Regions from separate parts of the Homo sapiens genome. Here region 2 is linked to region 1. Evidence: fine-mapped expression QTL. Tissue or cell type: whole blood. Region 1 holds a variant in brackets; the other region holds the start of a gene. All regions are shown on one strand. Distances are between the middles of the regions.

What was found. PIP is the estimated chance that this variant, and not a neighbour inherited with it, causes the effect.
Region 2: ABCC1 starts here. The variant in region 1 is fine-mapped to the expression of ABCC1 in whole blood (TOPMed, PIP above 0.99).

What each region holds. Positions count from the first base shown.
Region 1 is chr16:16,102,617-16,105,298 of GRCh38, reverse strand. ABCC1 (ATP binding cassette subfamily C member 1 (ABCC1 blood group)) reads right to left here. Exons shown (of 31, transcript NM_004996.4): 20 at 2,582-2,672. Among named protein-coding and RNA genes, the nearest start is that of ABCC6, 120 kb to the left of the region's middle. The variant C/T (reference allele first, on the strand shown) is at 1,395.
Region 2 is chr16:15,948,467-15,951,148 of GRCh38, reverse strand. ABCC1 (ATP binding cassette subfamily C member 1 (ABCC1 blood group)) reads right to left here and starts at 1,533. Exons shown (of 31, transcript NM_004996.4): 1 at 1,350-1,533. The coding sequence starts at 1,397. It overlaps LOC107984869 (a long non-coding RNA gene), which reads left to right and starts at 1,978. Exons shown (of 3, transcript XR_001752339.2): 1 at 1,978-2,358.

The DNA.
Region 1 (2,682 bases):
CATGACCTAGGACTTCACACATCCACACACCTCGACAGAAAATCTTACATCCTTCTACACTCATGCACTGTCTGGAGTCTCCCACTAGAATTTAGGCTGTGTAAGATTGAGAAGTGACAGCGTGCTGGCAGCCCTCGCAGCCCTCGCTCGCTCTCTGTGCCTCCTCGGCCTTGGCACCCACTCTGGCAGCGCTTGAGGAGCCCTTCAGCCCGCCGCTGCACTGTGGGAGCCCCTTTCTGGGCTGGCCAAGGCTGGAGCCGGCTCCCTCAGCTTGCGGGGAGGTGTGGAGGGAGAGGAACGGGAGGGAACCGGAGCTGCACAGGGCGCTTGCGGGCCAGCGCTAGTTCTGGGTGGGCGTCGGCTCGGTGGACCCCGCACTCAGAGCTGCCGGGCAGCCCCGCCAGCCCGGGTAGTGAGGGGCTTAGCACCTGGGCCAGCAGCTGCTGCACTTGATTTCTCACCGGGCTTTAGCTGCCTCCCCGCGGGGCAGGGCTCGGGACCTGCAGCCTGCCATGCCTGAGCCTCCCCACCTCCCCGCTATGGGCTCCTGCGCGGCCCGAGCCTCCCGGACGAGTGCCGCCCCTGCTCCATGGCGCCCAGTCCCTTCCACCGCCCAAGGGCTGAGGAGTGAGGGCGCACGGCACGGGACTGGCAGGCAGCTCCACCTGCAGCCCCAGTGTGGCATCCACCTGGTGAAGCCAGCTGGGCTCCTGAGTCTGGTGCTGACTTGGAGGCCCTTTATGTCTAGCTAAGGGATTGTAAATACACCAATCAGCACTCTGTATCTAGCTCAAGGTTTGTAAACACACCAATCAGCACCCTGTGTCTAGCTCAGGGTTTGTGAATGCACCAATCAACACTCTATATCTAGCTAATCTAGTGGGGATGTGGGGAACTTACGTATCTAGCTCAGGGGTTGTAAACACACCAATCAGCACCCTGTCAAAACGGACCAATCAACACTCTGTAAAAACAGACCAATCGGCTCTCTGTAAAATGGACCAATCAGCAGGATGTGGGTAGGGCCAGATAAGAGAATAAAAGCTGGCTGCCAGAGCCAGCAGTGGCCACCTACTGGGGTACCCTTCCAAACTGTGGAAGCTTTATTGTTTCACTCTTTGCGATAAATCTTTCTGCTGCTCAGTGTTTGGGTCCACATTGCCTTTGTGAGCTGTAACACTCACCATCAAGGTCTACAGCTTCACTCCTGAAGCCAGCCAGAGCACAAACCCAGCGGGAGGAACGAACGACTCCAGACACGCCACCTTAAGAGCTGTAACACTTACCGCGAAGGTCTGCAGCTTCACTCCTGAGGCCAGCGAGACCACGAACCCACCAGAAGGAAGAAACTCCGAACACATCCGAACAGCAGAAGGAACAAACCCCAGACGTGC[C/T]ACCTTTAAGAACTGTAACACTCACCGTGAGGGTCTGCGGCTTCATTCTTGAAGTCAGTGAGACCAAGACCCACCAATTCCGGACCATAACCATGTCCGGATGATAACCATGGCAAAAGCGACATCTACGAAGTGTTTGTCTGTTCCAGGCACCGTGCTATGCCGCATGGTCTTTGCTCTCTCCTGACCCCTGTAGCAACTGCAGGTCCGGGATCCTTTCTCAGATCTCCGCGGTCTGATACGTTTAGGCTCCGACTTTGTCAATTTTTGTTGTTGTTTTACTGTTTTCTGCTGCTGCTGCTGTTTTGTTTTGTTTTTGTTTTTTGAGATGGAGTCTCGCTCTGTCACCCAGGCTGGAGTGCCATGGCGCAATCTCGGCTCACTGCAACCTCCACCTCCTGGGTTCAAGCGATTCTCGTGCCTCAGCCTCCCGAGTAGCTGGGACTACAGGCGCCTGCCACCATGCCTGGCTAATTTTTGTATCTTTAGTAGAGACAGGGTTTCATCATGTTGGCCAGGCTGGTCTTCAACTCCTGTCCTCAGGTGATCCGCCCGCCTCAGCCTCCCGAAGTGCTGGGATTATAGGCATGAGCCACCCTGCCTGGCCGACTTAGCCAGTTTTTTAAAAGCTAGGATGGTTAATATACTGCATACGCTATAAATCCCCAGGGATCTAAGGAAGCCCTCTATAATCAAACACGAGCATACTTCCTTTTTTGTAGAGATGAGGTCTTGCTATGTTACCCACTGTGGTCTCAAACTCCTGGCCTCAAGCGATCCTCCTGCCTCAACCTCCCAAAGTGCTGAGATTACAAGCAGGAGCCACCACACCTGGCCTTGAGACAGTTTTAAATCAAATGCTGCTTCACAAAGCCTGAACCTTCCAGGCCCCGCCAAGAGACCTGAGCAAAGACCCACACCATGTAGGGAGCCCGAGTGTCAGAAGCGTGGACAGCTGGTTAAATCATGAGGCCTGTGTGAGTTGTGCCACCTGGCAAAAAGAGTGCCACATTCCTTCTTTGGGCCTCTGTACTCTGAAAAGCAAGGTCCTTGGAGGATTTGGGAGGGAAGGTAAAAGCCCAGGCCTTCCAGGACCTCAGGGGGCTGAGGCCTTTTTTTGTTCCTCCTCTTGTCCTCCCACTGGCAGGGCAGGGTCCTTAGGTTGGGGCCTTCCTCCCCGCCCTTACCTCTGCAGTTGCTTCCCTGCACTGTCCGTCACCAGCATGCCATTCTCCATTTGCTTTGCTTCCTTCCCTGGACCGCTGACGCCCGTGACCCCTGGCAGAAG
Region 2 (2,682 bases), 150 kb after region 1:
TGCTGTTACTACACCTGGCAACAAGGAAGCCACAGGTTTTCCCCTGCTAAAGAAAGTCCATCTGCAAAGAGGCTCCAATCACCCCCAGACCCTCAAGGCAAAGTCTGTGTTCTATTTCCACCCCTGGGGTTACTCTCCAACCCCACTGGCTTAAAATGGGAGATATATCAAAGTGTGGTAGGTTATTAAACACAATGATACCCTACTAAAAAAAACAAACAAACAAAACCAAACCCTCCAATGGGGCCCTGGAGGATGACTTTTCAACACTCCAAATGCAACCCTCGAGGAAAGGCCGGCAAAACAGGACAAGAAAGTATTTTTGGAAGCTGATCACCAGCTCCTAAGAACCAAGGCTGTTTCTCCTGATTCCTAAACAAAAGAGGAGAGAGAAACAGTCGTGTCCAGATTTGCCTACTGCGTTCACCAACAATCAAGACAGCACGAGACAGAAGTGCCTGCCTTCCTGGAACAAAGAGGCAAATCGCATTACGGAGAAGCTGAAGCCCAAAAGACTGGGGCTTAAACCACAGCAAGTGGACTCCAGACACCCAGTCAGGCTCCGCAGGCCACGTTACAGAAGAAAACTTGCCGGGGTTAAATCTAAGGGGCATCCCCAGAGAGGAGCTCCACGTGTTGCAGGGAAGGGAGGGCAGGACCACAGCTACCAGGGTCCTGGGCGTCCTCAGCTGCACCCCAAGTCTGCCCCGAGCCGAGGGTCAGGTAGGGCACATCAAGGGTGGACATCCCCCTTCTTCCCTGGTTCCCCCAAACTTCCCCCGCAGTATCTAAGTAGAAAGAACAAAAAAAACAAAGCTAGGTAACCACAGAAGAGTAATGTGGCTTGTACGACAACTTTGGGGAGACAATGAAAGTCCCTTTCTACAATCTAAGCCCCTCCCCAGCTCACCCCGTTGGTCACGGAGTATTTTTCGTGAAAAGGGGGGACCCTAACCACAAAAAAGATGGGAAAACAGAAGCAGAGAGACACCCCTCTTCCCGCCCCCCATCTCTAGCGTCCCCTTCCCTGGAAGGTTGTTTTTACAGACGGGAACCCCAAAACAGGAAGGCCTCCTCACGGCGGCTCTGACCCGACCCGACCCTCCAAAACCCCAGGGCTGGGCACGCGGCCCCCCACGCTCTGCTCCGCAGGAACTGAGTCACCCAAGTTTCCCCCATGCCTTGCACCCCCGAAAGGGGCTGGGCCGCGGGCGACGTGAGGGTCCCGGGCCCCCGAGGCCGGCAGCAGAGCGGGGAGCGGGGTGCCCCGGGCGGCTGCGGGCCCGGTGCTTTCCCTCCCCGCCGGCCTCCCTCCGTCCCGCCGGCCTCACGCGGCCCCCGGCACGTACCCAGAGCGGGTCGGAGCCATCGGCGCTGCAGAAGCCCCGGAGCGCCATGCCGGTGGCGCGGGCGGCGGCGGGCACCGGGCGGCGGGTGATCGGGCCCGGTTGCTGGCGCGGGCGGCGGCGGGCACCGGGCGGCGGGTGATCGGGCCCGGCTGCTGGCGCTAGCGCTGGCGGCGGCGGCGGCGGCGGCGCAGGGAGCCGGGGCCGGGGCCGCAACGCCGCCTGGTTGGCCCGCGCGTCACGGGGATGCGGCGGCCCCGCCCCACCCCGCCCCGCCCCGGCGCCCGCTCACCTCGCGCGTCTCGGCGTGGGCAGCCGGACCAGCCACCTCTCGGCGCCCCGGGCCTGGACCCCGCGCCACCCCCACCCCAGATCCTCCAAGGCTTAGGCCCACCCGCTCGCGGACGGGCCTGGGGAGCGTTGGCTCGCCTTCCGGAAGCGCCTGGGATCTTTGGGGCCACACACCCTGCGACCACTTTTCAAATGCTGTTTAAGGACAGTATCCGTCACCAGGGGAAAATAACGTGAACGGAGCCCCCTACCTGCCTGGAGTGTACCGGGCGCCTTAACTGTGCCCTCATTTCATCCTGTAAAGTCTCCACGTTCATGAAGGAAGAAACCCAGGTGCAGAGAGGTTGAGTGATTCCCTCTGCCCAGGGTCACCTGGCTAATCACTTGCAGGGCTGGGATTTGAACCCGGTCCGCTGACTCCAAAGCTGAGTCACACAGAAGGAGGTGAATACTGTTATTCACCTACCTTTTACAGATGGGGAAACTGAGGTTCAGAAAGGCGAAGTGACTTGCCCGAGGTCACACAGTTAATAAGGAGTGAAAGTGGAAGTGAGATTCAAACCCGTGAGCAGCCTGATTCCGGAGCACTGATGACCCAGACGGCGCCAGTCTCCATCACTAACAGCTGTTGACCTCACCTGTGTGCAGAGCGCCTTTGCTTCTTCTCAACCTCTTTAAGCATCACTTAGAAATAACCAGGTTATTGATCCTCACCTCAGAGGTAAGGAAACTGAAGCCTGGAGACATGATAATCGTAGGCCAGGCATGGTGGCTCGTGCTTGTAATCAAGCACTTTGGGAAGCCGAGGCGGGCCGATCACATAAGGTCAGGAGTTCAAGACCAGCCTAGCCAACATAGCAAAACCCTGTCTCTACTAAAAACACAAAAATTAGCCGGGCATGGTGGCGGGCACCTGTAGTCCCAGCTACTTGAGAAGCTGAAACAGGAGAATCACTTGAACCTGGGAGGCGGAGGTTGAAATGAGCTTAGATCACACCACTGCACTCCAGCCTGGGCAACAGAGCAAGACTCTGTCTCAAAAAAT